4 separate regions of the Homo sapiens genome follow, and regions 2, 3 and 4 are each linked to region 1. Evidence: fine-mapped expression QTL. A gene starts in region 1. Each other region holds a variant in brackets. All regions are shown on one strand. Distances are from middle to middle.

What was found.
Region 2: its variant is fine-mapped to the expression of C1QTNF6 in whole blood (INTERVAL, PIP above 0.99).
Region 3: its variant is fine-mapped to the expression of C1QTNF6 in whole blood (INTERVAL, PIP 0.98).
Region 4: its variant is fine-mapped to the expression of C1QTNF6 in blood mononuclear cells (TOPMed, PIP 0.96).

Annotation. Positions count from the first base shown.
Region 1 is chr22:37,187,075-37,189,758 of GRCh38, reverse strand. C1QTNF6 (C1q and TNF related 6) reads left to right here and starts at 1,512. Exons shown (of 3, transcript NM_031910.4): 1 at 1,512-1,596. The coding sequence starts at 1,546. RefSeq lists enhancers at 1-502, 503-1,138, 1,139-1,772, 1,773-2,408.
Region 2 is chr22:37,253,840-37,256,523 of GRCh38, reverse strand. No RefSeq gene overlaps it. Among named protein-coding and RNA genes, the nearest start is that of RAC2, 11 kb to the right of the region's middle. The variant A/G (reference allele first, on the strand shown) is at 1,655.
Region 3 is chr22:37,211,800-37,214,483 of GRCh38, reverse strand. It overlaps SSTR3 (somatostatin receptor 3), which reads left to right and starts at 2,007. Exons shown (of 2, transcript NM_001051.5): 1 at 2,007-2,659. RefSeq lists an enhancer at 2,189-2,684. The variant T/C (reference allele first, on the strand shown) is at 1,230.
Region 4 is chr22:37,216,951-37,219,634 of GRCh38, reverse strand. It overlaps a transcript of SSTR3 not described here. Among named protein-coding and RNA genes, the nearest start is that of SSTR3, 5.8 kb to the right of the region's middle. RefSeq lists enhancers at 309-528, 679-848, 879-978. The variant C/T (reference allele first, on the strand shown) is at 1,355.

The sequences.
Region 1 (2,684 bases):
GTGTAAGAATGCAAGATAAGCTTACTCAGTGCTTCCTTAAATTGAACACATTAATCTTCCAGATATCACCTTTTGTTAGGACTCAGAGTTACAAATGACTCTGAACACACCAACATTTTCTTACTCAGTTCCTCTCTGCACCAAACCCAAGAGACTCTAATAGTTAGGCAGGAATATCATCGCCTCTATTCAGCCTGAAGAAGTTACAGAAGATGGATCTTCATGCCTCTACAACCCTTAAGATTAAACGTTCCCTCGTAAAAGAGAGTAGGGAAATATGTCAGAGGTGTTCAAAATAGGGCAACTCCATCTTGAATAGGGGCTGGGTAAAATGAGGCTAAGACCTGCCAGGCTGCATTCCCAGGAGGTCAGGCATTTGTAGTCACAGGAAGGGATAGGAAGTTGGCAGGACTGGTATCACAAGATACAGGTCATCAAGACCCTGCTGAGAAACAGTATGCGGTAAACAAACCAGCCAAAACCTGCCAAATCTAAGATTGCAATGAAAGTGACATCTGGTCATCCTTATTGCTCATTGTATGTTAATTAAAATGTGTTAGCTTGCTAAAACACACTTCTACCAGCACCAAGACAGCCTACAAATACCATGGCAATGTCCGGAAATTACCCTATATTGTCTAAAAGGGGGAGGAAGCCTCAGTTTCAGGAAATTCCCACCCCTTTCCTGGAAAACTCATGAATAATCCACCCCTGTTTAGCATAGGATCAAGAAATAACTATAAAAATAGCCAACTAGCAGTGCTTGGGGGTGCTCTGCCTATGGAGTAGCCATTCTTTTGTTTCTTTGCTTCTCTAATAAACTTGCTTTCACTTTGCTCTGTGGACTTACCCCAAATTCTTTCTGGTGCAAGATCCAAGAATTCTCTCTTGGGGTCTGATCAGTACCCCTCTCTGGTAACACTTGCATGATACCTGAGGAGGTCAGCCTGGTCATTCACCCAACAAACATGGGTTAAGCCCTCCCATGTGCCTGGCACAAAGGGGGCTGAGGACTGCAGTTCTGGAACACCTAGGCTCTGAGAGGCGACGCGACTGTGGTAGCAGGGCCAGGATTCTAGCCTGTGCCTGGAGGGCCAACACCTGCACCTTCTCTGCTACCCACCCTGCCTCTGTGACTCAGAGCAGTTAAGCACTTTAGCTCAGGGTGGACTCAGGGCTGCCTCCCCCTTCCTGAGCAACCTAGGGGCTCCTGTGCCCCATGCCTGTGTCCATTTCCCAATCATCAGGGGGCCTCAGACTCCTGCCTGCTCTGACTTTCTAGGCCTTTGAATCAAGCAAGACCCCACTGGATCACCAAAGAGTTAAGCAAAGGAAATCCCTGCCTCCCTTTATCTCCGCAGAACCCAGAGGCTGAAAGGGAGGGAGCAGGGAGGAGGGGAAGTGGGAAGCGGCTCTGCCCTCTCCCTCCGCCCTCCCTCCGCCCTCTCTCCCTCCATCCCCTCCTCTCTCCCTCCTCTGCTGGGCCTGGGGGTCTGGGCCAGCAACAAGTTAGTATTGCAGACATGGGCCAAGGAGCCAGAGGCCATGCAGTGGCTCAGGGTCCGTGAGTCGCCTGGGGAGGCCACAGGACACAGGGTGAGTGACCAGAGGCTCCTCAAGCTTGGGGGCTGGGGTCAGAGCCTGGAATTCCTCTCCTCCCTCCTTGCTTCCTGGAAGCATCTCGGGCCCTGCTCTCTCCCTCTGACTGGGACAGCCTCTCCAGGCTCTCCCCTCCACATTTCCTCCTGCCTCTGGCTGAGGGCTGCGCTCCACTGCTCCCGGTTTGTGCCCGCCCCTACCCGGGCACACACAAACTCAGCTCTGCACGGCCTGCCTGGACCGAGAAAAGTTGCCCTGCCGCTCCCTCCCCAAAGAGGTCCCAGTGGAAGCAGCAAGGACCCCAAAAGTCCTCCCTATGACTTGGTTCCCACACTTGGTCCCTGCCTGGCACCCACCCCCAGAGCTAGTTCGTGATCCTGGCTGTGGTTATGATTCCTCGTTAACGGCTTCCTGATTCCTGCTCCCAGGCCACGGTTCTGTGTCTCACAGCCTTTGACTCCCATCCGCTGGGGCCAATAGGAAACAGAAATGCTCCCAAACCATGCCAGTCCTCTGGGAGAAGTTCTCCTTCCCATCCCATGCAGGCACAGGGAAGAAGTCAAAGCACACTTTTTTTTTTTTTTTTAAGTCTTTTATAAGGCAGGCACTTTTCCTGCATTGAAATCCTTCCAAATTACCTGGGAGGGAAAGGGTGGTGTCATTTCCTTGTAAGTATCAAGGAGCAGGAAGCCCAGAGAGGTTCAGCCACTAGCCCTAGGTCACACAGCTTGCAAACTATTCTGGGTCTCAGATTTGACTCTAAGACCTCAGCTTTTCTCATGAGGTCATATCTGTGGCTGGGAAAAAGAAGGGAATTTTGGGATTTCCAAAACCACTGGGATTTGTCATTTATAAGTAAAAGTTGAGGATGACAGTCTCAGACAGGGAGGATGTTGATCTCTGAGGATTTGACCTCCTTATTGAGCAGAACCAGGAACCCAACCAGGGTGGGCAGAGAGAAGCTTGGGAAGAGTCACCTCCAGGAAGAGGGAGGTGGCTCTGGAGACTTCCTGTCCAGCCCCCTTCTCCTGCTGCTACCATCCAGCTCTGGGGGTGGGGGGCAGGGCTCCTGCCGCTTTATTTAT
Region 2 (2,684 bases), 67 kb before region 1:
GTTAGAGAGTGGCCTGTGGGGCCCGCTGGGAGGGCCTCCTGGGACCTGAGGTGTGGGGCAGTGGGAGCTTGGTTCTGTTTGGTATCTGGGTGTGTCTGGGGCACAGAGCCTGGCTCTGGGGGCAGAATGCTGGTTTTCTCATCAGGAAAGTCCCTGATGGAGAGAGGGACCCGCATTCTTCATGGGGGATCTTCGAAGAGAAAATCCTCTCCTAGAGGTAGGGAGGTGACTGGAACTGAAGAGTGGCCCAGGGCGGTCAGCCCAGGGAGCTGGGTTTGGGGATCGGGTGGGGGGCAGTCAGTGGGAGTTCCATCAGCTCCTCGGAATTTGACCTCAGAGCCACTCTGGGAAAACCCTGTCAGGCTGGGGACTCAACTCCAGCACCTGGGGACTGCCCAGAGCTGCCAGCCCTCCCTGTCACCTCTCTTGCTTGTGACACTGAACACAGGATGACCCCCAAGGCAGAGTGGACCTGGACGCAAATGTTCCCCAGCTCTGACTCCAGGGTGCCAGCCAGGGACACCCTAGGCATCCCCTCAATGTTTTCTTTCTTTCTCTCTCTCTCTCTTTCTCTCTCTCTCTTTCTTTCTCTCTCTCTGTCTCCCTCCCTCCCTCCTTTCTTCCTTCCCTCCCTTCCTCTCTTTTCTTTCTTTCTTTTTTCTTTCTGTCTTTCTCTCTCTCTCTTTCTTTCTCTTTCTCTCTCACTCTACTTTCCTCCCTTCCTTCCTTCCCTCCCTCCCTTTTCTTTCTCTCTCTCTCATCCTTCCTTCCCTCCTTTCTTCCTTCTCTCTTTCTCTTTTTCTTTCTCTCTCTCTTTCTTTCTCTCTTTTTCTTTCTCTCTCTCTCATCCTTCCTTCCCTCCTTTCTTCCTTCTTTCTTTCTGTCTCTTTTTCTTTCTTTCTTTCCTTCCCTCCCTCCCTTTCTTTCTTTCTTTCTTCTTCCTCTTTTCTTTCTTCTCTCTTTTCATTCATTCTCTCTCTCTCTTTCTTTCTTTTTCTTATTTCTACCACATTTTACTGAGTGCTAGGTCTGTGTCAGATCTTGGAATATAGTAAAGATTTTTAAAATGTTGGCTGCTATTTCAATAAGATTAAAAATTTTAGCATGATCTGATAATTCTAAAGTTGCATGCATTTGATGACATAACCTAAGGGTTTAAAAACAAAAATAAAAAGTGACAGAATTACAAGTAGAATTGACAAATTCACCACCATAGTGGGAGATTTAACATACTTTTCTCAAGAGCTGATAAATATAAGCAAGGTAAATATAAATTTATTTGTAATGATACGAAAGATCTAAACAATGCAATGAACACCTTTGATTTATTAGACACATAGGGAACACTGAATATATACACATTTATGAAAATAACACTCACAGTAGGTCATAGAGCAAGTCTCAACACATTAAAAGGAGTCAGTGTGACACCGTCTGTATTCTTTGTCTGCAGTATCACGAGGTAAGAGAACAAGATAACAGCCTCTTTCCCCAACTCTTGGAAATTAACAATGCACTTTCAAATGACTCATTGAGCAGAACGGAAATCGTAATGAAAGTTGAAAAATGTTTAGAACTAAAACATAATAAAATATTACATATTAAAACTGTGGGTTGTGGTAAATTTTATGTTATGTCTATTTTACCACAATTA[A/G]AAGCAATGCTAAAGTAGTATTGCCTTAAGAACTTGTATTAGGAACAAAATAAGACTAAAAATTCATGAACTAAGCATTCAAAACTAAGAAGTAAAGTAAGAACATCAGAACAAAGCAAAAGAAAGAAAAGAAACAATAAAGATAAGAATAGAAATTAATTAAATGGGAAACAAATGTATAGTAGAAAGGATTAACAAGACCAAAATTTGGCTCTTTGAAAAGGTGAGTAAAATTAATGAAACTGGGGAGCAATTGATTAAGAACAAAGTTTGAAGGCATAAATAATCAATATAGGATAAAAAAAGGGAGATAACAGAAATTAGAGAGGAGAGATTCAAAAGATATAAAATAATACTATGAATAGCTTTACACTAATGAATTTGAAAACCCAAGCAAAATGGGCAACTTTCCAGAAAAATATCTAAAGCATGACTCAAGAAGTAATAGTGGCCGGGCGCGGTGGTTCATGCCTATAATCCCAGCACTTTGGGAGGTCAAGGTGGGCAGATTGCTTGAGCTCAGGAGACCATCTTGACCAATATGGTGAAACCTCATCTCTACTAAAAATAAAAAATTAGCCGGGCCTAGTGGTGCCTGCCTGTAGTCCCAGCTACTTGCGAGGCTGAGGCATGAGAATCACTGGAACCCAGGAGGTGGAGGTGGCAGAGAGCTGAGATCACACCACTGCACTCCAGCCTAGGTGACAGAGTAAGACTCTGTCTCAAAAAAAAAAAAAAAAAAAAGGAATTCCAAATAGTCCTATACCCCTTAAAGAAATTGAATTAGTAGTTTAAAATCTACCCCTCTTCCCCCTCTCCCCCATAATTCTGAAACCAGGTCCAGATACAGATGGCTTTATAAATTTTATAAAATATTTAAGGGAGAGATAATGTAATATTATCCAAACTGGCTGGGCGCGGTGGCTCACGCCTGTAATCCCAGCACTTTGGGAGGCCGAGGCGGGCAGATCACGAGGTCAGGAGATCGAGACCATCCTGGCTAACACGGTGAAACCCTGTCTCTACTAAA
Region 3 (2,684 bases), 25 kb before region 1:
GCATAAAGGCTTTTGTACCAGGTTGAACATAGAATGGCAATTGTGTAACTAGGAAGATAAGGATTAAAAGATCTGTTCATACAGATTTCTTTTGGCCTCGACTCTCCTTATCTGGTAATGTCTTTCCTCCTCCTGGCATAGGGAGGGCGTCTTTCACAAGGCGTTTTAGCTCCTGCTTTCAGGAAGAAAAGGGGAGGTCAGAGCCCCCTTTCTGCACCTGCTGTTTCTGAAGTGCCTTTAGTGCAGAGAAATCAATATGCCAGAGTGGTGTATTCTGGGGTGGCGTGTCCTGAACCCCTTCAGTGGCCTGGCTCAGACGGGAGCCTGTGGATGGAGAGCAGTGGACGGGTTCCAGGCTGGAGCAGTAAGGCTCGGTGCTGGGGAGGTGTGTGGCAGGGGGCACACTGATGAGCATTCACTCCTTTAACCTTCGCAAGAACCCCCAGGCCAGGCAGTCAGGTGTGTACAATCTACTGAAGGAGAAAACCGAAGTTTAAGTTCAGTGCACGGCAGGGGTAGAGCTGGGGCTCAAACTCCCCTGTCCAGTCTTCAGCCCCTATACCCCAACCTGCAGGAATAAGTGAATGAATACATGAGGCTGGGTACGCCTGGGGCACAGAGGAGCGAGTGAAATCAGCAGAGGAGGAGGCCCGCGCAGGCGGCAGGAATCAAGGATGCAGTGCCAGGTGGGCTGCGGCGAGAGAGCTTTATTCTGAGGGCAGTGAGAAGCCGTGGGTAGGGGTGGGTGGTCAGTGCCATGGAAAACCCACCCTTGACCCTGAGGACACGCTCCCAGGAGCCCACCCACACCTCATGAACTTGTACGGACAAGGACAATGGGAGGCTGAGACCTGGAGCAAGGGCCTTGTCCCGGGCACAAGGCAAAGGGACGGGCAGCGTTAAGAGACCAGGCCGGCTCCGGCTGGAAGTGGGTGTGTCCTACTGTGTGCTGCCGCATGCATGGTGGCACCTCTGGATGCATTCAACTTCCAGTTCTCTGCAGTGCCAGGTACCTAGTGACAAAGGAGGTCCAGCCCTGGTCCCAGGGAATGGCCCAGTTTGGAAAGCAGCCTAGGTACAGCCTGGCACATAGTAGGTGCTCAGCCAAGACGTGTGTCCTTTTCCCTTCCGTCTCTGACTGTTCCTTTCCTTATCACTCCTGTGCTGAGGCAGGAATCAGCACAGGCAGGGGCACGGCATCCCAAGACATCTGGGCCTGTGCTCAGGAC[T/C]GTACGGCAGAGTCTCTTAGACCAAAGATCAGTAAATATGGCCCACGGGGCAAATCCCACCCACTGCCTGTTTTTGTACAGCCTAGGAGCTGAGAATGGTTTTTACGGATGAACATTTGCAATCGGTTTGATGAAACACTAACTCTAAACTCCAATTAAGCAAAAGGTGATGTCTGTAAAAAGAACTCTATTCTTCTCATGAGTGGACCTACATTACAAAATACTGGCCTCAATTATTATTATTCTATTTTGAGTTTTGTCAGTTACAAAATAGTAAAAATCTGTTTTCTCACTGCACAATGATTTTGCCCTCAAAGCCTAAAATATTGGTTCTCTGTTCTGTCCTTCCACTCCTCACCCTGCCTGGGGCTCTCCAGATGTAACCAATCCCAGGACTAATGACCCCCACCCGGCCTCCCCAGTGGTCCGTGCTGCGGCCGGTGTGCCCGACTGCAGGGCTGGACTGTGGACTCCCGGGCTGGCCAGCCCCACACCCAGCCTTGCCTTGGGACACAGCTGCTGCCCCGGGGGACCTGTGCCGCAGTGGCCTCACGAGCTGCTCTGGCTACTGGCTGGCAGCCTCGGCTCCCCTGAGCACTGAGCACATTCTTCTCTCCAACTCCCTGCAGGAGCCAAGGCCAGCGGGCGTGGGTGGCTGAAATCTCCCCGGTAACAGGGTCTGCGCCCCTCCTGCTCCCTCTCCGGGCCTCCTCCCTTAACCTGCACCCCGCCCCCACCCCCCACACCTGCTCTCCGGCCCTCAGCCCCTCCCTGCTTACTCCCTCCTTCACGGGCTCCATGTCACCATCTGTGGCACAGTCCCTCTCTGTCACTCTCCCTGCCACCCCCTCATTCTCCTTCCTCCCTCCTGCCTCTCTCTGCATCTCTCCCTCTCACCCGTGTCTCCTCTCCTCTCTTTCCTTCTCGTCTTCTCCCTGTCACGCATCTCTCATCACTCCCCCTCATTCTGCCTTTCCTCCTACTCACGGTCTCCTCTCCCTCTCCCTCTCTCTCTCTCCCCCTCCCTCTTTCTCTCTCTCTCTCTTTCTCCACCTCCTCCCGACCCCCTTTCCCCTCTATTTCTATTGGCTTCTGTGTCCCTTGCTCCCCTCTTCTCTTCCTCACCCTGGGAAGCTTCTCCCCCCTATCCTTGCCCCTGCCCCCCCAGGATGTGTCCTGGAGATGGGGGGTGACGTACCAGGCTCTGGTTGGGAAGTCAGGGCCGGAGACCAGATGGGAGAGGCTCTGTGGACAGCCGTGGCCGAGGGCCTGGGAGGGAACCTGAGCCCGCAAGCGGTCTAGAAGTGGGTGCCTTGTGGGGACCCTAGTTAGGAGTGCCCTGGGGGCACCTGGGGACTGGGCAGGGAGAGGGGACAGCAGAATGATAACCAGCCTGGCGGCAAGGAGGGAAGCCCTCACCCCATGGGCAGGTAAGGAGGCTGGGGCCCGGATGAT
Region 4 (2,684 bases), 30 kb before region 1:
CTCCTCCGATCTCTGACCTCTCCTCTCTACCCACCATTCCTACCACGCTCCAGAGAGATACTGACATTTGGGGACATCTGACTCCATCCAGCTCTCACATGATATGGGAGGCAGAGCAGGACAGGTCCCGGAGAGGGAGAGGCAGATCCAGGATATCCCTAGAAGGCTTCCGGAGAGGACCTCAAGGAAGGTAAAATGAGCAGTTTTTTGCAGAATCCAAAATTCAATACAGTTCCCACCTATTAACTATGTGCTTCACACCAAGCTGTGGCAGGAGCTGGAGGTGCAGAGAGGGGTGAGGCACAGCCCCTTGCGCACCAGCAGCTCAGAAGCCAGTGGGAGAGACAGACGTGTAAATAGACATCCACCATGTGGCTTGATCCACAGATCACAGAAATATATTCAATACAGAAAGGAAGAGACTCTCGTCTCAAGGCGCTAGGGTAGAGATGTTTCCACCCCCACCTCCTCGCTGAAAAGCAGCCACGACAAGAAGGAGAACAAGAAACAGAAACACAAACTCCCACCTTCAAAGAAGCCAGGAGACACCTGTAACCCCAAACCACAATGTATGAGCAGCAAGAGCAGATGGAGGGTGGTAAATGATTGAACAGAGCTGAGGAAGGCAAACCTAAGTGCCTGCTGCTACATGGTGGGGTGGAGTAGGGGCTTTGGAGACAGAAAAGATGCAAATCACCTGGTCTTGCAGAACCCTGGGGAGGCTTAGAATTAGGGAACCCAGACATCATGGATGGTGAGGCAGGAGGCTGAAAACAGGGGTTGTGTGGAAGTCTGCTTAGGAGGAGTGAGATCCCCCAGCACCACCCCAGGTCTTCTCTTTTCCATTACGTGGTCAGGCACCCACCCCTCCCTAACCCCAGCAAGGAGTATTCAGCCAGAGTTCTCTGGACCCAGAGACATTCGCTACAGGGCAGAGTGGGGGTGAGGCACCACAATGCTTTTGGAGATGTCAATTCGATGATGCCTTGCAAATAATCACTCCTCCACTCCTACCCTCCCTACCCATCACTCCTACCATGCTCCAGAGAGAGATTGACACACCCTCTATGGGAGGGGCGTGTTTCCCCTCTCCCCTGATGCTGGGCTTGGCCATGTGACTTGCTGTGGCTACTGGGATGACAACCTCCACCTCCTGGGTTCAAGCGATTCTCCTGCCTCAGCCTCCTGAGTAGCTGGGATTACAGGCATGCGCCACCACGCCAGGCTAATTTTGTATTTTTAGTAGAGACGGGGTTTCTCCACGTTGGTCAGGCTGGTCTCGAACTCCCACCCCAGGTGATCCTCCTGCCTTAGCTTCCCAAAGTGCTGGGATTACAGGTGTGAGCCACCATGC[C/T]CGGGCTTAATGCCTCATTCTGAAACAGGAGTGGCTAACACAGGATGACTGGTTGAAGAAGGCTCTAATGATAGCATTGCCCCAAATGATAAATGAAAGAGACCCAATCAAATAAGTAGAAGAAAAGGAATATCAGTAAGCAATAAAGATGATGCAGTGAGCAGAAGAAAATTTTGACAAAACCATCATTGCCATCCTTGAAGAGATAAGGAAACATATATCCACAAATGAGTACAGAATGCCATAGCAAAGAGCAGGCAGAAATCAGGAGAGAGCTGGTTGGGCTCAGTAGCTCATTCCTGTAATCCCAGCAATTTGGGAGGCCGAGGTGGATGGATTGCTTGAGGCCAGGAGTTTGAGACTAGCCTGACCAACATGGTGAAACCCTGTCTCTACTAAAATTACAAAAATTAGCTGGGTGTGGTGGCATGTGCCTGTAATCCCAGCTACTCAGGAGGCTGAGGCAGAAGAATCACTTGAACCCAGGAGGCGGAGGTTGCAATGAGCTGAGATTGTGCCACTGCACTCCAGCCTGGGTGACAGAGTGAGAGAGCGAGACTGTCTGTCTCAAAAAACACAAACAAACAAACAAAAAAATAAAATAAAAAACAGGAGAGAGCTCTTGGAAATGAAAAATAGGTTGATTTAAAAAAAGAGGGACTGGAAGAGAAAAACAGATTTTTTTAAACCTCCCAGGAAGTAGAACAAAATTATAAAGATGAGCAACAAGAAGAATAAAGATTTCATCCAGGAGACCCAATATTCAAATATAATAGGAGTTACAGAAGGAAATAACAGAAAAATGTGTCTCAGAACTGAAGAACACAAATCTTCAGATTAAAAGGCTACTTGGTGCCCCCGAAGACAAATGAAAAAAGAATCAAATCTTGTTATAAAATTTTCAGAAATTTAAGGATAAAGCAAAGATCCTAGAAGATTCCAGAATAATAATAATAAAAAAATTAGCTTAAGTTACACAATGGATTGGGATTAAGAATTGTGCTGGAAGCTGGAGACACCGACAGACGCCTTCCATCAGCTGAGTCAGAGTCATTCTCAATCTCAAATTCTATACCTAGCCTACCTATCAACATGTGTGAGAGGGGAATTCACTATTTTGAAACATGCACACCTTCTCTGAAAGTTACTGGGAGCTATGCTACATCAAAATGAGAGAGGAGGCCAGGCGCGGTGGCTCACGCCTGTAATCCCAGCACTTTGGGAGGCTGAGGCAGGTGGATCACTTGAGCCCAGGAGTTCAAGACCAGCCTTGGCAACATGGCAAAACCCCATCTCTACCGAAAATACAAAAACTATCTGGGTGTGGTGG